3 linked regions of the Homo sapiens genome follow. The protein of the gene in region 1 interacts with the protein of each later gene in a biochemical or structural test. Each region holds a gene or a part of one and is shown in the gene's direction. Other genes may lie near its edges.

Region 1 (7,035 bases):
AAACCACAGTTATGGGAAGCACAACATATACCAAACAGAATAAATAAATTCATGCACAGTCATGTTATAGTAAAACTGCAAAACACCAAAAGAGAAGATCTTAAAGGACCAAAGAAAAGATACACCACCTACAAAAAAACCACAATCAATAAGAAAGATAGATTTCTCACTGCTATATTAGAAGCTGGAAGAAGAGGGCATACTATCTTCAATGTGATAACCTGGAATGATCAACCTGGAATTTTATGTCCAGAGAAACTATCTTTCAAGGATGATGGTGAAATACAAAGACATTTCAGATAAGCAAAATAGAAACTGCCTCCAACAGACTTTCACTTAAGGAAATTCTACTTTAGGAAGAAGAAAAATGGTGCCAGAAAGGAAGTCTGAGATACAGGAAGGAACGGTGAGCAAAGAAATTCGTAAGCACCTGTGTAAATCTAAACAAGTGCTACCTGTATAAAATAATAATGATGATGATGATATCTAATTTATGAGGCTAAAAAAAAATACTGGACAACTAAAAGAGTGGTTAAAATATTAATATTTAAAATTTAGGTTTTATGTTAATTTTAAATTAATGTATCATGCATGTTAAAATTTCAAGGATAACTTCTAAAAGTACATAACTTCCAAGCCAATAAAGAGGAAAATTGAATTAAAAAATTTTTTAAATAGTTATTATAGCTAGGTGCAGTGTCTCATGCCTGTAGTCTGAGCTACTTGGGAGGCTGAGGCAGGACAATTGTTTGAGCCCTGGAGTTCAAGTCTACAGTGAGCTATGATGGCCCCACTGCATTTCAGCCTGGATAATGGAGCAAGACCCCGCCTGTCTCTTAAAAAAAAAAAGTAACCCCAAAATATGCACAACTATGATCTATCAGTAAAACACCACCAAAAAAACAACCACTTAAAAATTTCTCTATTTAGCTTCGTGACCTCTGTTATGCTGTATAACCTCTGTAAGCCTTAGTTTTCTCATCTTTAATGTGTGGGTAGTAGTAGTACTTCCTTTATAGGGTTGTTGTGAAGATATAATCAGATAATGCATGTAAAAAGCTTAGCACAAATCTAGTACATAATAAGTATTAGCACATATCTAGTATATAATAAGTATTCAATAGACATTAGTAATTAAACGTTACTGCTGTTAGACAATACCAGTGGCTCTCTTATACGTATATTCCCTATACAAAGGGAAGGGGAGCTAACATTTTAAGTGCCTGCTATATGCCAGGCACTATACTAAATGCTTTCTTATATATTGTATCTCATGTAACCCTCATAACAATCTTATGAAAATATATATTGGTGTCTGCATTTTATAGATGAGGACAATGTACTTCAGAAAGTTTAAGTAACATAACCAAGGCACTTAATGACAGTGGGTTTCTATTATACCTCCCATCAAAAGAACTTCAAATTGGCTGGGCACGGTGGCTCACTCCTGTATTCCCAGCACTTTGGGAGACTGAGGCTGGTGGATGACGAGGTCAGGAGTTTGAGACCAGCTTGACCAACATAGTGAAATCCCGTCTCTACTAAAAATACAAAAATTAGCTGGGTGTGGCAGTGCACACCTGTAATCCCAGCTACTCAGGAGGCTGAGGCAGGAGAATCGCTTGAACCTGGGAGGCGGAGGTTGCAGTGAGCCAAGATCACGTCACTGCACTCCAGCCTGGGCGACAGAGCAAGCCTCCATCTCAAAAAAAAGAAAAAAGAACTTCAAATTAATACATATCTAGGAGGATTAAAAGCTCAAATGCTTTTTACTTTTTTCTGACTTATTTTACCCCACTCTGAAATTTTGTGTCATGGAAACAGACTTCAAAAAAGCCAAAATTCTCCTCAAAAATTAAAATTTTGCATGTCAAACCAGGTGCAGTCACTCATGTCTGTAATCCCAACACTTTCGGAGGCCAAGGTGGGAGGATAGCTTGAGGCCAGGAGTTCGAGACCAGCGTAGGCAACATAGCAAGACCTTGTCTCTACAAAAAAATTTTTTTTAAAAACAGCCAGGCATGGTGGCACATACCTGTAGTCCCAGCTACTCAGGAGGCTGAGGTGGAAGGATTGCTTGAGCCCAGGAGGTCAAGGCTGCAGTGAGCCATGATCATGCCACTGCATTTCAGCCTGGGGGAAAAAGCGAGACCCTGTCTCAAAAAAAAAAATTGCACATCATTTATTGACTAACAGCAAACCATGGAAATTCACTAAAGATCTTGAAGTCAGACAGAAAATCATATTTGGGGGTGTTTAAGAGGATTAAAGAAACATCCTCTTACTCTATACTTTGAGTTCATGTAGTATGATGTGAAACGAATCACAACAAAGCGGCCTGTTCTTAGGGTGCCTGCTGGAAGTCAGTATTCCTCTCAAAACATTCTTTCTCTTCTCTTTTCTCCTTTCCTAGGGGTACACATCTTTCTGGAATGACTGCATATCATCAGGCCTGCGAGGGGGCATCCTGATAGAGCTGGCCATGCGGGGTCGAATCTATCTGGAACCCCCGACCATGCGTAAGAAGCGACTACTAGACAGAAAGGTACTGAATCCTCTGTGAACGTCCATGGCTTATGGAAAGGCAAATACCAACAGTACATTTGGGAAGAATAGAAAGATTTGAGTAGTAAGATAAAATAAATATCACTGACTCAGCAGTTCCATTGTCTAAACAGGTTAATTACCCTATTGCAAGAGGGAGAAATCAAAGTATCCATAGTCCAAAGAGTTATAGGAAGCTCCTGGTTTTGTCTTCCTTTTTTATGCAGAAAAATCATACTCAGGATGCTGTTGATTAAATTCCTCCTATATCTATAGCTATAACATTATGAAATAGCCGGGCACAGTGGCTCACGCTTGTAATCCCAGCACTTTGAGAGGCCGAGGCGGGCGGATCATGAGGTCAGGCGATTGAGACCATCCTGGCTAACACGGTGAAATCCCATCTCTACGAGAAATATTTAAAAAAAAAATTAGCGGGGCATTGTGGCGGGCGCCTGTAGTCACAGCTACTCGGGAGGCTGAAGCAGGAGAATGGCGTGAACCCGGAAGGTGGAGCTTGCAGTGAGCCAAGATCCCGCCACTGCACTCCAGCCTGGGGGACAGTGCAAGACTCCGTCTCTAAAAAAAAAAAATTACGAAATAGAGTATGATGTAGGGAGAGGGACTCATATGGGTCAGGTCAGTCATTGATTAACCCTGGTTATTCTCCAATAATATTCTGTTTCCTTCCATTTACTGCAAGTCCTTTCCAACCATACTCCTGTATCCATTTTCTTACTGAATTTTTCCACTCACAACTTCTTTATCATCCTAAGCACTCCACTTAAACTACATTCTTAGGTATCACCAGCTTCTTTTCAGTCTTTGATTTATTTTTCTCTTTTAACCTATATGTGTCATTTGACACTTTTTATCACTTTGAAACTTTCTTCATTATTGGCCTTTGTTATTATCTTATTCTCTTGCTTCTCTGACTATACACTGTTTCCTTACTTCTCCATTTCTTAACATCCAAGTCTCAGTTTGTATCACTTGAGTGATCTTCTGTCCTTTCAGAGATATCATTTACCTTTATAGCTTCGTCTGTCACCTTCATGAGATTAATTTTCAAATTTCTAGGCAGGTCTTGTTTTTCCACCTCCAGAAACATATTTAACTATTGGCTAGAAATTTCAACTTGGCTATCCCATATCATTTAAAACCAAACTTAACAAAAATGAAAGAAAACCAAATTATCAACCTTTCCCCAAAACTGACTTCCTTTTCTGACTTTCCTGCCTTTGTTTATTTATTTATTTATTTATTTAAATTTTTATTTTTTTAATAGAGAAAAGATTTTGCCATTTTGCCCAGGCTGGTCTCAAACTCCTGAGCTCAGGTGATCCACCCGCCTCAGCCTCCCAAAGTGCTAAGATTACAGGCATGAGCCACTGAGCCCAGCTGTTTCCTACCTTTATTAATGGTTTCAAAAGTTGGTTTCCAGACTCAAAATGAGTTGTTATTGAAACTTTTCTCCATTATCATTCATATCCAGTTTGTCACTAGGGCCCACTTCAAATGTTATTTTTGTCTTTGCACTATCACTCCATACTATATTTTAAACTTCTTGAGGACAGAGACAGTATATTATGCTTCCTTACATTCTTGCAATTTTTAACCAGTAACATATACATGATATATTGAAAGATTTTAACTTGAATGAAGTGAAGGAATCAGGGTTCCTTCTTTCTCCTTTTCTCAAAGGTACTGCTAAAGTCAGACAGCCCAACAGGTGATGTTTTACTGGATGAAACTCTGAAACACATCAAAGCAACTGAACCCACAGAAACTGTCCAAACATGGATAGAGCTACTCACTGGTAAGATGACTTAAAATAATATATGAATTTCACACTTTGTTATCTTTATCCTACCCTGAAATTTAGTAAAAGATGTACCGAAATTCATCGTGCTGGATGAGATAGATGTGGTTCACTATTTAATTCTAATGAGGGACAGAAAAAGCATGGTTAATTGATACCTAAAGTTTTCCAAAGCTTCACCTTATCTTCTGCCACCCCACCCCAAAAGCCCTTAAATAGTATTCTTCACAAGAAACTTTTAAAACATCTTTATTGAGAGGACAATGAGAATATTGGCATTGATGCAGTCTATTATTCTTATTAGAATTTCCCAGTTTTAATTTGCCAAATAATATTTTATTGCATGGCCATACCACATTTGTTTATCCAGTCATCAGTTGATGAATCTTTGAGTTATTTCCACATTTTGGGTATTGTGAATAATGCTGCTGTGAACACGCACGGACAAGTTTTTGTTTGAACATGTTTTCATTTCTTGTGGGTATGTAGCTAGGAGTAGATAACTGGGTCATATGTAAATCAACGAGTAACATTCTTACTGTGGTAAAATATACATAACATTTATTATTATTATTATTATTTCGAGATGGAGTCTTGCTCTGTCGTCCAGGCTGGAGTACAGTGATGCAATCTCAGCTCACTGCAACCTCTGCCTCCCGGGTTCAAGCAATTCTCCTGCCTCAGCCTCCCAAGTAGCTGGGATTACAGGCACGTGCCACCACGCCTGGCTAATTTTTGTATTCTTAGTAGAGACAGGGTTTCACCATATTGGCCAGGCTTGTCTCGAACTCTTGACTTCGTGATCTGCCCGCCTTGGCCTCCCAAAGTGCTGGGATTACAGGCGTGAGCCACCGCGCCCAGCCAACATTTATTATTATTTTAGCCATTCTTAAGTGTACAATTCTGTGAAATTAAATATATTTGCAATATTTTGTAACCGTCACCTCTATCTATACTATACCCAAAGCTTCCTCATCATTACCCATTAAAACTCTGTACCTATTAAATGATAACTTCCTCTTTCTCTCTCCCCCCAGTCCCTGGCAACCTCTATTCTACTTTCTTTTTCTATGAATTTGCTTACTCTAGGTACCTCATATAAGTAGAATCATACAATATCTGTCATTACTTTCCCTAGCTTATTCACCAAGCATAATGTTTTCAAGGTCCATTCATGTCACAGCATATATCAAAATTTCATTCCTGTTTATGGCTGAGTGATATTCCGTTGTATGTATATAACACTTTCGTTTAACCATTCATCTGTTGATGGACACTTGCCTTGTTTCCACCTTTTGGCTATTGTGAATAATGCTGCTGTGAACATTGATACACAAATATCTGTTCAAGTTCCTGTTTTTAATTCTTTTGGATATATACCTAGGAATAGAATTGCTGGGTCATATAGCAGTTTTATGTTTAACCTTTTGAGAAATCACCAAACATTTCCACAGAGACTGCACCATTTTATATTCCCACCAGTATGCACCAGGGTTCCAATTTGTCCACATGCTGATCACCACTTGTTCTTCTCTTTCTTTTCTTTTTTTTAATTATAGACATCCGAGTAGGCCTAAAATGTTATCTCATTGTGGTTTTGATTTTTATTTTCAAATGAAAATAGTTTTCATGTCATTCCTAATGACTAAAAATATTGAGCATATTTTTATGTGCTTACTGACCATTTATATATCTTCTTTGGAGAAATATAAAATACTTTTCCCATTTTTAAGTTTGATTGTTTTGTTGTTGTTGAGGTTTTTTTGTATTTATTTATGAGATGCGGTCTCACTCTGTCACCCAGGATGGAGTGCCGTGGTGCAATCTCGGCTCACTGCAACCTCTATCTCCCGGGCTCAAGGATCCTCCCACCTCAGCCTCCCAAGTAACTGGGACTATGGGTGCGCACCATCACACCTGGCTAATTTTTTGTGTTTTTGGTGGAGATGGGGTTTTGCTATGTCACCCAGGCTGGTCTCTGAACTCCTGAGCTCAGACAGTCTACCCATCTTGGTCTCCCAAAATGCTGGGATTACAGGCATGAGCCACTGTGCCTGGCCAGAGGTTCTTTATATATATTCTGGATATTAATCTTGCCGAGACCAGCTCAGTTGTGGAGACCCTAACCCAGTGGCGCTAGAGGAATTAAAGACACACACACACAGAAATATAGTGTGGAGTGGGAAATCAGGGGTCTCACAGCCTTCAGAGCTGAGAGCCTTGAACAGAGATTTACCCACATATTTATTGACAGCAAGCCAATCATAAGGTTTACTAAAAGTATTCCTTATGGGAAATAAAGGGATGGGCCGAAATAAAGGGACGGGCTCTGGCTAGTTATCTGCAGCATGAACATGTCCTTAAGGCACGGATCTCTCATGCTATTGTTTGTGGTTTAAGAACACCTTAAGCAGTTTTCCGCCCTGGGTGGGCCAGGTGTTCCTTGCCCTCATTCCAGTAAACCCACAACCTTCCAGCATGGGCATCAAGGCCATCACAAGCATGTCACAGTGCTGCAGAGATTTTGTTTATGGCCAGTTTTGGGGCCAGTTTATGGCCAGATTTTTGAGGCCTATTCCCAACACGTCCCCCTTCTTTGTTTTACAAAGCAATAAAAGCAAAGGCAGCTTTGTCAAGGTGAGCTACTTCTCACAGAAGTCAGGATCCAC
Region 2 (7,499 bases), on another chromosome or scaffold:
TGTGTCAGTTGCACCCCCACCCCCTTGTGCCATAATTCATATGTTGAGCCCTAATCCTCAATGTGATGGTATCTGGAGGTGGGTCCTTTGGGAGGTGACTTGTATTCTTATAAAAGAGACCCCAGAGTGATTCCCTTGTCCCTTCTGCCATGCGAAGACACAGCAGAAACATTTATGAATGAGGAAAACACCCAACACAAAATTTGCAAGCACTTTGATCATGGACTTGCCCCCAAAACTGTGAGAAAGAAATTTCTGTTGTTTATAAGCCACTAGTCTAAGATATTTTTGTTCCAGCAGCCCCAAAGGGCTTAGACAAATGGTAATTCTTACAATAGTTTAAGACAAAAACCATGCCATAATACCTGATGCTTGCCTTTCTCTCACATTAAAATCTTGAGTAAACTTTGTTAGCTCTACGTTCACAATATATCCAGAATGTGCTAGCTTTTTTTTTTTTTTTTTTTTAACCAGCTAATACCCATCATTTCTAGTTTGGATTATTACAATAATACTGAAAGTGTTTATTCCTTCAATTGTTAATCCACCTACTACTGGAACAAACCACTTAAACCAGACACTGTTCTGGGTTCTTTAGTATACAGGAAATTATCTTTTTGGACTTTACAAAACGAATACCTCTTATCCACCCTGAATCTTACTATAGTGCACTGTCTCAGGACATGACTGCCAGAGCACTGAATATAGTCAATATGATAAAATAATTCTAATACCCAAGTAAAAAAATCATTTTCCAGGATGGGCTTCCAATGCTTTGCTTCTAAATCCAACTAACTTGGAAAACCTAATTGGTATGTCATTCAGAATATTCTGATGATAGATCACTATCGGTAAATGATTCTAGTCAAAAGGAATAAAAAGAAATGAATGAAATTGCTATATAAACATTCTTTTTATTTTTAAACATAAATGAAGATGTTTTGGCCCTTACATCTCTAAAAGCGAAGAAGAGAGAAAACTGATGTTAGACTTCGTCTGATTCTAGCAATAAATAATATTTGTTCATGGAAACCTAATTTTAAAAAAATGCCCAAGCTAATTAAGAAATACATTTCAATAAAATGTTACTTTTTATATTTATTCAAATTGGGATATTTGTTATTTTGATCAGCTGAACACTAATTATAGTTGTAATCATACAAAAAATTCCTATGTTAGCATTTAGGAGATTATGATCACAGGATATACACAAAATTTAAATACAGTTGTCTGTTGGTATATACCTGGGATTGGTTCCAGGACCCCCGGTATACCAAAATCCTCTCATACACAAGTTCTGCAGCTAGTCCTGCAGAACCTGCTTACAGTAAAAGTCAGCTGTCCTTGGGTTTCATATACAGCATATACTATATTTTTGATCCTCATTTGGTTGAAAAAAATCTATGTATGAGTACAATTCAAACCTGTGTTGTTCAAGGGACAACGGTATACACATATTTTTTGCTGCAGGAAAGGATAACCAATAAGGCTTATGCCTAAAACCGTACTATATAGAATTCTTGTTAGTCAGGGTTTCTCAACAGCACACTATTGAGATGTTGAGTGGGTTAATTTCTTGTTGTTGGGGGTTGTCTTTTGCAATGTAGGATATTTTGCAGCATCCTTGGCATGTTCCCACTAGACAACAGTAGTACCCCACTCCCTAGTTTATGAAATCAAAAATGTCTCCAGACATTGCCAACTGGCCCCTGGGAGGCAACAGTCCCTTGCTGAGAACCACTGCAGTAGAGAATAGAATAGTAATACAATGTAAAACTTTGACTATCAAAATGGATGTTAGTATCAAACTACTATGGTATTTAATTCCATCTGATAATATTTAAAACAGTGATAGTTACTGTAAAATGACATTTTACAATGCACTGGAAATTACATTATTTGCCATTACTTAAAATAATGGTCAAGAACTTTAAATGATCCACTGGTTGAAAGCATCCTGTAGTTTATAGGAAAGGTGAGTAATGCACATTAACCTTCACTTAGAGTTTTTTTTTTTGGAAACGGAGTTTTTGCTCTGTCGCCAAGGCTGGAGTGCAGTGGCGCCATCTCGGCTCACTGCAGCCTCCGCTTCCTGGGTTCAAGCAATTCTCCAGCCTCAGCCTCCCGAGTAGGTGGGACTACAGGCGTGCGCCGCCATGCCTGGCTAATTTTTGTATTTTTAGTAGAGACAGGGTTTCACCGTGTTGGCCAGGATGGTCTTGATCTCCTGACCTCGTGATCCGCCTGCCTCGGCCTCCCAAAGTGCTGGGATTACGGGGGTGAGCCACCGTGCCTGGCCCCAATTAAGAGATATTTTGCAAACCTTAATATGGCACTTTGGAACACTATATGTTTATCTTGTATAGTTCTAAGACTTTTTTCCTTTTGATGAATGTATTAAGTTCTTGAAAACTATCTCTCCTGATAAACATCTAGAAAATTTAACTGAAAAGATCAGAGCTTTTAAACAAATGTAAACTACTTAGATGCAGAGCAAATGTTTTTCAAAATTCAAATTGTGTAGACTAGTAACCGTGTTTTATTTCCATGTTTCAAATGATGCCTATACAATTCCAAGCATCTGGAGGCTGAGAATAGTTTAAGAACTCCAAAGACCTATTCGATACAAAGAAGCAGTACAGGTACCTCCTTAATCCTGTTACTAGTTACCTAAATAGTCTCACTATGCCCCGGTTCTCTCAGCTTAATCAGTTTAATGGCAACTTATGTAGTACTTTTATTGTTTTAAACCAATTCTAAATAGATTGTCTACTATTAATCGAACAAATTTATGAGGCATATAGAAAAGATGTCAGAAAGAAGAAATTTGTAGTTAAGTAATAACTTGCTTTGTTTACAATTCAGCAGCAGCAGCAGCCTCACAGCTGAACTACAGCACAGGTCTCCAGAACCATCACACCAAACTCCTTTTCCTAAGAAAATCTCACTTGAGCTTTTAACTCTATATTATATGGAGTTTGGGGATATTTGAAAGCAAGTTAAATAAAATTCCCACCAAAGGCGGCATAAGGCACTAGGCAGAAGTAGCCAAACTTAAGTACAGTAAGTCAATTTCTAGAAAGCTTTGAATATTATTTCAATTTGTCTGTCCGTATTCAATGCAAATCGTTACAAAATCACGTCTATTTTGAATTTATTAAATTTCTCAAAGTTTTTTTTTCAAAATCTGAGTTCTTATAAGAATTTGTAACAAATACCTGTTACAATTAAACAATACTGAAAGTATTGTTACTTTTGATAACCTGGTATAGATGTTTCTTATTAACCCGCTGTAGAGTTGATCTACACATGCCAGTTACCATGGTCTTCTAAAAGCACTGTTCAAGCCCTAAAATTAACTCAGTTAAGACTCAGTTGTTTAATAACGTATCAGGAACCACCTGTCCCTCAGACTAAAAATCACTTCTCATTTTAACTACTCTAGCACTAAAAGTGAATAGCATAATAATGTATCTACTAGCGCTACTGCTAAACAGTCCGGGTCCCCTGAAACTTATCCCTAAACACAGTGCTTTCGTGCGGCATCTGCGCCTTACTTTTGCAGTCTGGGGTGACTGAGTCAACGTGACCGTGCGGAGCACCAAGCAGCCCCGGGTCCCCATGGCTACCGCCAGGGCAACGCTTCGCGGCCCGCTCCTCAGGGACCCTCAGGGGCGGCACCGGGAAATCAGCTTTGCGGAGAGGAACCGCAGGGCTCCGGGGACGGGCTAGGGCAGCCGGCGGGCAGCAGAGGCAAGCCTGGCAAACTCTTCCCGGCTTCTTCGCGGCGCTTGGGGCAGACGTCCTGGCGACACCAGGCCGCGTCGGTTCCCCTTCATCCTATTTTCCCTTTAACACGGTGGCTTGAGAACTTTATTTTGTGCTCACTCAAGAAAATTTTAAATGATTTTACAGATACAACCCCAAAGATGAAGCTCCAACAAACCCGCCACTACTCGAGCCTTTCTCACCGTCTTCCTCACAGGCCCCACCCCCTACCGCGAGGAGCACGAGCTGAGGGGAACACAAGCCCCCGTCGGGCACTCCCCGGCCTCGCCCCACCCCCCAGGCGCGCACCCAACCCATATAAGGCGAGGGGAGGCAATCGCGCCAGCTCTGCCTCCGCCTCGCGCGCCGTCCAGAGGGAAGGATTTGCAATAGACTTCCTCAGTTCATTTCTTCTTATTCCCTCCTCCCTTAAAGGGCCGTTTCCACAATAGTGAAAGGAACGCACCAGTAAACCACAATAATCATAAAAGATGACTGTAATTAAGACTCTTTCTGAAACCAGAAACCGCGAGTTCATGCCCCCACCTCAAGAGCCCGAGCTTCCCCCTCTCTGAACCGCCCCCACACCCGCTCCCGCGAGCTCCCGCTTACGCTTTCCGGGCGGCGCGCGACGCGCTCGCTCCGCCCCTCTGGCCCCGCCCCCGGCTCCCCTTCTTGGTCTCAGGAGAGCCAGCGCGCACAAGCAAGGGTGTGCGGCTCTGAGACGTGCGTTGCTGCTTGTGGGTGTGAGACATCCTAGCTCCTCTTCCCCTTCCGTGAGTCCCTCCTTTCCTCGCAGACCCCACTTGTCGTGGCTGGCTGCCGCCGCAGCTCTTGTGCGAAGCCAGCAGTGCGCGTGCGCGCGGGCACGGGCGCGCGACCGTCGGGTCCCCGCGCTCCCTCCCCCTCCCGCTCCTCTATAACTTGGCTGGCGTGGAGGAGGCGCCGCCGGAGTCGGAGGGCGGGGAGCTAGGAGGAGGGAGCTCGAGAGTTGTGGAGACTAGTGACTGGGAGAAGTCGCAGCCCGCTCAGGCCCGCGCCTTCCCGCTCCCCGTCTTCCTCTCTCACACACCTACTCCGCCCTCCGCCCCAGCCCGCGCGCTAGCTCCTTCTCTCGCCCGGGGTTCCTGCCGGTAGCTCTCCGGGTCTTGGCGCGGCGGGGGCGCCCCGGGGGTGCCCTCGCCCTCCCGTTGCGGGCGGGCGGGCGGTATGTGGCGCCTGGTGCCCCCGAAGCTGGGCCGCCTGTCCCGCTCGCTGAAGCTGGCGGCGCTGGGCAGCCTGTTGGTGCTGATGGTGCTGCACTCGCCGTCGCTGCTCGCCTCTTGGCAGCGCAACGAACTGACCGACCGGCGCTTCCTGCAGCTCAATAAGTGCCCGGCGTGCTTCGGCACGAGCTGGTGCCGCCGCTTCCTCAACGGGCAGGTGGTATTCGAGGCGTGGGGCCGCTTGCGCCTGCTGGACTTCCTCAACGTGAAGAACGTGTACTTCGCGCAGTACGGCGAGCCCCGCGAGGGCGGCCGCCGCCGAGTGGTGCTCAAGCGCCTCGGCTCGCAGCGCGAGCTGGCGCAGCTCGACCAGAGCATCTGCAAGCGGGCCACCGGCCGGCCCCGCTGCGACCTGCTGCAGGCCATGCCCCGGACCGAGTTCGCGCGCCTCAACGGCGACGTGCGTCTGCTCACGCCCGAGGCGGTGGAGGGCTGGTCGGACCTGGTGCACTGCCCCTCGCAGCGCCTTCTCGACCGCCTGGTGCGCCGCTACGCGGAGACCAAGGACTCGGGCAGCTTCCTGCTTCGCAACCTCAAGGACTCGGAGCGCATGCAGCTGCTGCTGACCCTGGCCTTCAACCCCGAGCCGCTGGTGCTACAGGTAGGCGCGGAGCCAGGGCAGGGGGCGTCCTGGGAGGGGCCGCGCGTGGGAATCAGAGTCGGGAGAAGTGGCTCAGCCAGCGCTTGCCGCCAGTTCGGACTCGGCCGGGCTGGGCCAGGCTGCAGGCGTGGGAAGGGGCGTCTCCGGGGGAGCCCCGGGGCTGTGCAGGGAGGCCGAGGGCGACCCCGCTGATGGAGAGTCTGCTCTTGTTACCTAGATTCGGGCGCATTTCGGATTTGACTGTGGATCTTTCAACGCCAGAGGGAGTGCGTCTCTTAACACTCCCCAAAATGTCTCTACTGCGAGTTTCCTTCCGCTCTCTACCCTGCCTTTCTGCTTTTATCTGCCGGGGCTTGCAGGTCCGCGGCGCAGACTGTTCACGAGCCCTTGGACCTTTCCTAGTTCTTCTGAAGTGTTCTACACCGCGTTCGCTCTTCCTTTTCTGGCGCTGGTGGCTGGCCTAACTTCGGTCTCAGAGTCTTTGTTTTCGCTCATTTACCTGGCAGTCATTTGGACACCTAATTCGAGGACAAGTTGGGGAGGATGAAGTCGGAGAACGGGACAGTGGTCGGGGTGGGTTTAATCTGTGAGCCGAGCTTTGGGTGGGATTAGAATCAGAAACAGGAAAAGTAAGGCAGCGTTGGACTTGGGGCTGGGAGGGCTTAAGGCCAGACAGACGTTTTCATCCTGATCCTGTGACCTGCCCTATTCATCTGGTAATCTAGTTGAAGGGAGATGAAATATTAGGCCAGGGCGAGTATCAGGGAAGGAGATTCTTGCCTTTCGCCAGTTGCGTTGTTTGCTCTCGTCTGACTGTTTTGAAAAGTAATGTGCCTTTTAGGGGAATAGGATGGAATCTTTACTGGTGACATCAAAAAGAGAACAAAAAACAAAAACACTGTTTACTTTCGGAGTATTTGCTTGTTTCTGCACATTCCCACCCAGCTTCAGTGCGGTGTCCTTGAACAGTGATTACAACTGTGGGGTTGTGGTTTCTCCTTCTGTCTGCAGGAAAAGTTACCGTGCTCCTTTCCATGACAAGAGAAAAAAATGACTTAAAAGTTCACAAGTAATTTTGGTATACTTCACATTCTTTCTGGGTTGCTGTCACTGAGGGCTGGAGGTACAGGGTTTTTTTTTTTTTTATTTTTCTAAAATGCATGAATAGGAAAGTGCAGATTTCTTTATATTATTTTCTTTTCTCAAGCTCTACACTGCCCATTTTAGCTTTAAAAGAAACCAGCTTCGTTTGATTAGTTCAGCCAAATAATGTAACACAAATATTTGGCTTCAGATGAAACTTTAGTGTGGGTCTTAGTAAATTTTAGGACATCAGAGGCTATGTGTATTGGGTTAATTTTAAAGTCAGAGTGTGTTTTAAATACTGCTGTATCACCTAACTGAATGGATGCATAAAACTGGTTAAACTTTCCTTGAAGAAATTTTCTTTATTCAGTAGTTCCCAAACTAGTCAGTCTCTAAAGGTTTAGCCTGTATTTATGATGTACATACACTTGAACTGAAGTTTCTCATTAAGCTATCTTTAAAAGAGAACCTTGTTTGTATTAGCAAGGTTGGTTCTTGGAGATCGTGTTAGCATTTTGCTGAAGTAGATACCCGGACAAATTCTCTGAGACCCAGAAATTTAGCAAGGAGCTGTCTTAGTAATATACATTTACTGTACTTAAAATGCTGGCGTCCCTACCGAAAGATTTTTTTTTTTTAGGTAATTTTGAATAGTGATGTATTAGTAACAACTAACAGTAGAATTGATATTTTAAGAACATTATGTGGCCAGTTCTTTTTAAGTGTAGTCATAGCATTGAATTTGAGAAACTTTGGCATCTGATTTACACTAAGGTAAA
Region 3 (7,035 bases), on another chromosome or scaffold:
GTAGGCTGGGCCTGTGGTACCATTTGGAATTGTGCAGTCCACAACCTGATCAACCATACCCAGCCATCTCAGGTGGCAATAGTGGTGTGTAGTGGTGGTTGTTGTTGCTTATTGTTATATTTACTTTTCCTGGAGTCCAAGGTCCCTAGGCCAAGAGGAGGGGAGAGGCCTGGTTGGCATAAACCAGGGGCTCCCTAAGGCAGCGGCGCCTTAGCTCAGACTTCAGCTCACACCTCTCTGCCTAAGAAGTGAGCCAGTTCATTCCCTGTAGGAGTAGATAAGTTGAGACTCCAGCTGTGGTATCTTGAGCTGAAGCAGCCTCCCCTGCATTCCAGAGTCCTTCTCCCAAATGTCACTGTCCAGTGCTCTTGGGAGCCTAAACCCTCACTCTGCCTCTTTGAAGGCTTGGCCCCTCTCCACAGTGCCCATCCCTGATGCAATATCTCCTTTGCCTCTCCAGGGCTCTGCCAGCAGACAGCCTTGGCACACAGGCACAAGGGCTGGAGCCCAGAGATGAGAGTGCCCAAGGGAGGTAAGTGCACCTAGAAGGAACTTCCCCTGGAGTCCTGGCCCCTCCTGAGACCGCCCTCCAAAAGTCCCCTCCATGCCCCCAGCCTCCATGATTGGGTGCCTGGGCAAACTCCCCTGGCTGGTTTTCACCTTTCTGTTCAGCCAGCAGGTTGGAAATCTGGTACTAGAAAAAGCTGCATCCCAGCAAGCATCATAGAGAGATGAGCATCTTCCTTGTCTATTAGGAAGACGATTCTCCAGGTGATAGGAGAGAGAAGGCTGAGTCCCAAAGTGGGCGGGGGACTTGCCCAGTGTCACGGAGCAGATTCAAGCCAGAACCCAAACGCTGTTGTGTCCCGTTCTCCTAATGTTAGTGTTTTAGGTATGCTTTCTCAGTACCCCACAGGAGTTCCTTGGCCTTCTGAATAGCTTCCTTGAGAAAAGGGTATTATTATTCCTTTTTTGGAGAAGAAAGTAGAAGCTCAGAGAAGTGATACCTTTTGTCCAGATCACCAGCTGGCAAGTGGCAGCAGAAGTGAGATTTGAACCTTGGAGTGTAGTACTCCAAGTTAGAAGCCCTCACCTATCATCCTCACTGCGAGGATGCCAGGATACCTCCCTTGCCAGGGTCCAGCAGGGTGATGAGGGTGTTGGGCAGGCCTAGTTCCCTGGGCTGGGCCCTCTAGCTCCTTCCACAGTGGGGTCCCTAGCTCTGGGTAACCAGGAAGCTACTTTCTGCTTTGTGGGTTCCAGGCTGCTTTCTGTGTCCCAAGTCACCCTGCTTTTTCTTCTTAAGCCATCGTGCAGGTCATTGCTGTCTTCTGCTCACTTCTGACTTGCCTGCTTTGAGCTGTTTTCTTCAGCCTTGGCCTGGTCTGATCCAGGATTCCTGCCCTGGCCATGCAACCTTGGGCAAGCTGCTTCATCTCTTTGAGCTTAGATACTGCAGGGAAAATGCTTTAGCAGAGTTTATGCTCCATAATTTCGAACACCTTTGCTGAACATAAAATGCTGAAGCTGGCCGGGTGCGGTGGCTCACACCTGTAATCCCAGCACTTTGGGAGGCTGAGGCGGGCAGATCACCTTAGGTCAGGAGTTCGAGACCAGCCTGGCTAACATGGTGAAACCCCATCTCTACTAAAAACACACAAAAAAATCAGCCAAGGTGGGGATGCTGTCACTGAAATCCTAATAACTGACAGGATTCTGGTCACAGGTCTCAGGGGAGAATTTCACTGAGCACCTGATGAAGACAAAGGGTCGTTGCAGGGATTTCGGAATGGCTTCATGTCCTGTTCAGCCTGCCTCCCCGCAGGAAGTAGCTCTGAATTAGCTTTCTCCATCACAGACCCTGAATCGAGGGTACAAATGAAGCCCCAACCTCTTCAGCAGAACTTCATCAGCACGTTTTTCTGAAGAGAGGGAAATTATCCAATGCACAGAGAGGCCGGTGACCCCAGCCTGAGATCCATCTCTGGTTTGTCAGCTGCTTCTCATATTTTCACAGCAGCCTCTGAGGTCAGTGGATCCACCCTGATTTTGCAGCTGAAGAGACTGTGGCTAAGATGAGGGAAGTGACTCTCCCAAGCCACATGGCCAGGAAGTCCTAGCCTCTTAGCAGTTTCCACCCCAGGCCTGAGACTGTGTTCCCTCCGCTTTGATGTTTATTTTCCACTTGCTATAGCCTAAGAAGGCCCAGGCAGCCCAAGCCCTTGCAGGTGGATAGGCCCAGCTGCAGACTGGGCCCTTGGGTGGTTTTGGGTGGAACCTCACATCCAAAGAGGCATGCTGTCTTCCCACTGGCTTCCACCAAACCCTCCGTTCACTAAGTCACTTGCAGTTCCCCAGTCGTGCTGCATCCTTTCCTGCCTGTGGCTCTGCGCTGGCTATTCCCTTTGCTGGTAACATCCTTGTTTCCCTTCTCCACCTGCCTGTTTCCTACCCACCACTGAAAATTCTGCATGAAGGCTACCTCCTGCAGGAGGCCTTCCCTCACCTACGCAGGTAGAACCCATCAATCTCTCTCAGGCACAGGTCCATGGTAAGAGTAGACTTTGGAGGCTGAGGCTCCCAGCACATAGCAGGTGCTCATTAAATGTTGGAATAAGTAAATAACCAATGATTATGATAGAAATCACTAATATTCTTGGGCCAGATGGGGTAACTCATGCCTGTAATCCCATCATTTTGGGAGGCTGAGGCGGGAGGATCACTTGAAGCGAGACCCTGTTTCTAAAAATTAGCCAGGTGCGGTGGTGTGTGCCTGTAGTCCCAGGTACTTGGGAGGCTGAGGCAGAGGATTGCTTGAGCCCAGGAGTCCGAGGCCGCAGTGAGCTATGATCTCTCACCACTCAATGCACTCCAGCCTTTTTTTTTTTTTTTTTTAGACGGAGTCTCGCTCTGTCGCCCACGCTGGAGTGCAGTGGCGCAGTCTAGGCTCACTGCAAGCTCTGCCTCCCAGGTTCACGCCATTCTCCTGCCGCAGCCTCCCGAGTAGCTGGGACTACAGGCGCCCGCCACCATGCCCAGCTAATTTTTTGTATTTTAGTAGAGATGGGATATCACCGTGTTAGCCAGGATGGTCTCGATCTCCTGACCTCATGATCCGCTGGACCGGGTGGCTCATGCCTGTAATCCCATCACTTTGGGAGACAGGTAGGAGGATCACCCAGGCCCACGAGTTCAAGAGCAGCCTGGGAAACATGGTGAGACCCCATCTCTTTAAAAAAACAAAAAAAATTGAAAAAAGTGCCCAGCAGGGTGCCAGGCACACAGCTAGTGCTTATGAAAGGTGCCCTCTGCATTCATGTCAGCAGCCTCTTGTTTGCAGTTATAGGGCTTTGCAGTTATTGGAGAGCTCACAGCTCACAGACCTCCCTGACTATGCATGTCCCCCTCTCTCCCCAGATGTGAGCCTGGCGGGCTGCCCGCTAACCTGTCGCTGAAGCCCCAGAAGCGGGCCCTCAGGCCAGGCCTACCCTGCCTCCGGCCCAGCATGCGCCTGTCGGTGCGGAGGGTGCTGCTGGCAGCCGGCTGCGCCCTGGTCCTGGTGCTGGCGGTTCAGCTGGGACAGCAGGTGCTAGAGTGCCGGGCGGTGCTGGCGGGCCTGCGGAGCCCCCGGGGGGCCATGCGGCCTGAGCAGGAGGAGCTGGTGATGGTGGGCACCAACCACGTGGAATACCGCTATGGCAAGGCCATGCCGCTCATCTTCGTGGGTGGCGTGCCTCGCAGTGGCACCACGTTGATGCGCGCCATGCTGGACGCGCACCCCGAGGTGCGCTGCGGCGAGGAGACCCGCATCATCCCGCGCGTGCTGGCCATGCGCCAGGCCTGGTCCAAGTCTGGCCGTGAGAAGCTGCGGCTGGATGAGGCGGGGGTGACGGATGAGGTGCTGGACGCCGCCATGCAGGCCTTCATCCTGGAGGTGATTGCCAAGCACGGAGAGCCGGCCCGCGTGCTCTGCAACAAGGACCCATTTACGCTCAAGTCCTCGGTCTACCTGTCGCGCCTGTTCCCCAACTCCAAGTTCCTGCTGATGGTGCGGGACGGCCGGGCCTCCGTGCACTCCATGATCACGCGCAAAGTCACCATTGCGGGCTTTGACCTCAGCAGCTACCGTGACTGCCTCACCAAGTGGAACAAGGCCATCGAGGTGATGTACGCCCAGTGCATGGAGGTAGGCAAGGAGAAGTGCCTGCCTGTGTACTACGAGCAGCTGGTGCTGCACCCCAGGCGCTCACTCAAGCTCATCCTCGACTTCCTCGGCATCGCCTGGAGCGACGCTGTCCTCCACCATGAAGACCTCATTGGCAAGCCCGGTGGTGTCTCCCTGTCCAAGTGAGTGGAGCCCCTGATGCTTCCACTCAGACTCTGGCCCTGGAGTCAGAGGCGCCAGGCAAGAAAATCAGCACTGCCTTTCTTGAGCTGTGTGGCCTTGGGCAAGTCACTATATCTCTCTGAGCCTCCGTTTCATTATCCCAAAAAATGACAACAATTACTCCTCTCCTTTCTGAGAGAATCTGCAAACTTCGTGGGCTGTTTGTTTGTTTTTTGAGGCAGTGTCTCGGTCTGTTGCCCGGCTGGAGTAACAGCCGCCACCTCCCTGTTCAAGTGATCCTCCCACCTCATCTTCCTGAGTAGCTGGGACTATAGGCATGCGCCACCAAGCTGGGCTAATTTTTGTATTTTTGGTAGAGATGGGGTTTGCCCTGTTGCCCAGGCTGGTCTCAAACTCCTGGCCTCAAGCAGTTCTTCCACCTCAGCCTCCCAGAGTCCTGGGATTACAGGCATGAGCCACCACACCCAGCCTAGAATCTGCAAACTTTGAATATGCTTTGTAGTAAGGCAATAGTGGGTAAAGGTTAAGAGCACAGATTCCAGAACAAGGATGTCTGGGTTCAAACCTCAGCTCTGCCACTTCTTAGCTGTGTGACCCTGGGCAAAGCGACTCAACCCCTGTGCTTCCATTGCTTCATCTGTAACATGGAAATATAATTTGCCTACCTTATAGATACCTGTGGGCATCAAATAGGTTAATAAATGTTAGGTGCTATTATTACTATTTTAGTGTTGATACTGCTTTTATTGATGGAGTACCCATCCTCACCATTGTCATTTAATGAGTGCCTACTGTATGGCAAGTATTGGGTTAAGCCCCCAACAAGTTTATCTCCTTTAATCCTCACAGCAACCTGAGGACATAGGAACACCTCTTATCCACATTTTATAGACCAAAAAACTGAATCTCACAGAGGAGAAGTTACTGGCCTCAGGCTACACAGCTAACAAAGCATGGTGCTGGGATTGGAACCCAGGTCTGTTTTTTGGGGTTTTTCTTGTTTTTGTTTTTGTTTTTTTGAGACAGGGTTTCACTCTGTTGCCCAGGCTGGAGTGCAGTGGCACGATCCCAGCTAACTGCAGCCTCGACCTCTTGGGCTCAAGCAATTCTCCCACCTCAGTCTCCCGAGTAGTTGGGACTACAGGCGAGCATCTCCACACCCAGCTCATTTTTTTTTTTTTTTTCCTAGTAGAGATGAGATCTCAGTATGTCTTCCAGGCTGGTCTCCAACCCCTGAGCTCAAGCCTTCCTCCTGCCTTGGCCTCCCAAAGTGCTGGGATTACAGGCCCCTGGCCTATTGTGTTCTTAAACTCCCCATGTCCAGAACTCCTCCCATCCTCCCCTTCACTCCCCCTCATCCTTTCCTTTCCTTCCTCCCTCTGTCCCTTGCTCCCTGCCTTCTTCCATTGGAAAAGCTGCTGTCCCTATCCTGAGACCCAGAGCACTTTGAACAATGCTGGAGCAGAATATGCAGTTTCCACGCTTTCCCATCCTGATCAGGCTCTGGATAGCCTGAGAGCTCAGTGAAAGGGTGGTCCTTCCCATGGCTGGTCCTTCCCATGGCTGGTCCCTGCTGGGCCCCTTCCCAGGCCCAGAGCAGAGCTAGAGGCTCGCAGCTGCTCTCCGCTAGCAACAAAGTTCCTACATGCCGGGTACCCCAGCCAGTTGGTGCTGGAGCTAGGATTTTATAAATTATTATGACAAAAATATTAGATTACCAAAGTAATACATCTTGACTATAGAAAATTAGAAAAGATACACCAAAGAAGAACGGAGAAACAACCCATGATCTCACCACCCAGATCTTGATGTGTGGCCTACTGCACCATTTTCAGGGCCTGTTGATGAAACTGGAGTCCAACGAAACATACTCCTCTGTAGCCTTTTTCCACGGTGGTGTGGGAGCCCTTGCCAGTGGCAGCCAGCACTCTTTGGTAGCAGCATTTTTGTTGTTGTTTTGTTGTTGAGACGGAGTCTCGCTCTGTCACCCAGGCTGGAGTGTAGTGGTGTGATCTCGGCTCACTGCAACCTCCGCCTCCCGGGTTCAAGCAGTTCTCCCTGCCTCAGCCTCCCAAATAGCTGGGATTACAGGCACCCGCCACCACGCTCTGCTAATTTTTATATTTTTAGTAGAGATGGGGTTTTGCCATGTTGGCCAGGCTGGTCTCGAACTCGTGACCTCAGGTGATCTGCCCGCCTCAGCCTCCCCAAGTGCTGGGATTACAGGCATGAGCCACCGCGCCTGACCTGCAGCATCATTTTGAATAGCTGTGCGACAGGCTGCTACACGGATTGCCATATTCGACTTCACATTCCCTATTGTTGGACACTTCGGTTATTTCCAGTTTTACTGATATGTATCAAGCATTGCCCTCATTCATGTTCTGGGATGTGTCCACCTCATTTCTGCACCATAAAGTCCTAGAGACACAAGGATTTTGGCAAAAGCCATGCACATACTCAAGATTTTTGACATATTGGGTAGAGTTAAGATTTAAATCCAGGTTTGCAGCCTCTGAATCTGTGTTCTACCCACCAGTCCACACCCTTTCACCTTCCCCTGTTCTCCTCACCTCACGCCCGGTCTTGTCTTCCTTTTGCTGCCTCTTTCTGTTCTTTCCCAAGTCACCTCTTAGTTGGGATGAAAACATTTAGAACTAGGCCCTTGATCCTGGGGGTTCCCCACC

The links. The genes of interacting proteins can lie anywhere in the genome.
Region 2: the proteins of GOLPH3L (region 1) and DIPK2A form a complex in vitro, tested with the Homo sapiens proteins (one study listed by BioGRID).
Region 3: the proteins of GOLPH3L (region 1) and TPST2 form a complex in vitro, tested with the Homo sapiens proteins (one study listed by BioGRID).

Annotation. Positions count from the first base shown.
Region 1 is NC_000001.11:150,659,142-150,666,176, reverse strand, and holds part of GOLPH3L (Golgi phosphoprotein 3-like), read left to right. Parts: intron 1-2,413; coding exon 2,414-2,545; intron 2,546-4,248; coding exon 4,249-4,363; intron 4,364-7,035. UniProt on the Homo sapiens protein: Phosphatidylinositol-4-phosphate-binding protein that may antagonize the action of GOLPH3 which is required for the process of vesicle budding at the Golgi and anterograde transport to the plasma membrane.
Region 2 is NC_000003.12:143,967,356-143,974,854, forward strand, and holds the start of DIPK2A (divergent protein kinase domain 2A isoform a precursor), read left to right. Parts: upstream 1-4,467; 5' UTR 4,468-4,977; coding exon 4,978-5,634; intron 5,635-5,725; exon of another isoform or gene 5,726-6,177; coding exon of another isoform or gene 6,178-6,207; intron 6,208-7,499. UniProt on the Homo sapiens protein: May play a role in cardiomyocyte proliferation through paracrine signaling and activation of the PPI3K-AKT-CDK7 signaling cascade.
Region 3 is NC_000022.11:26,538,101-26,545,135, reverse strand, and holds part of TPST2 (protein-tyrosine sulfotransferase 2), read left to right. Parts: intron 1-460; coding exon of another isoform or gene 461-532; intron 533-3,417; coding exon of another isoform or gene 3,418-3,505; coding exon 3,506-4,347; intron 4,348-7,035. UniProt on the Homo sapiens protein: Catalyzes the O-sulfation of tyrosine residues within acidic motifs of polypeptides, using 3'-phosphoadenylyl sulfate (PAPS) as cosubstrate.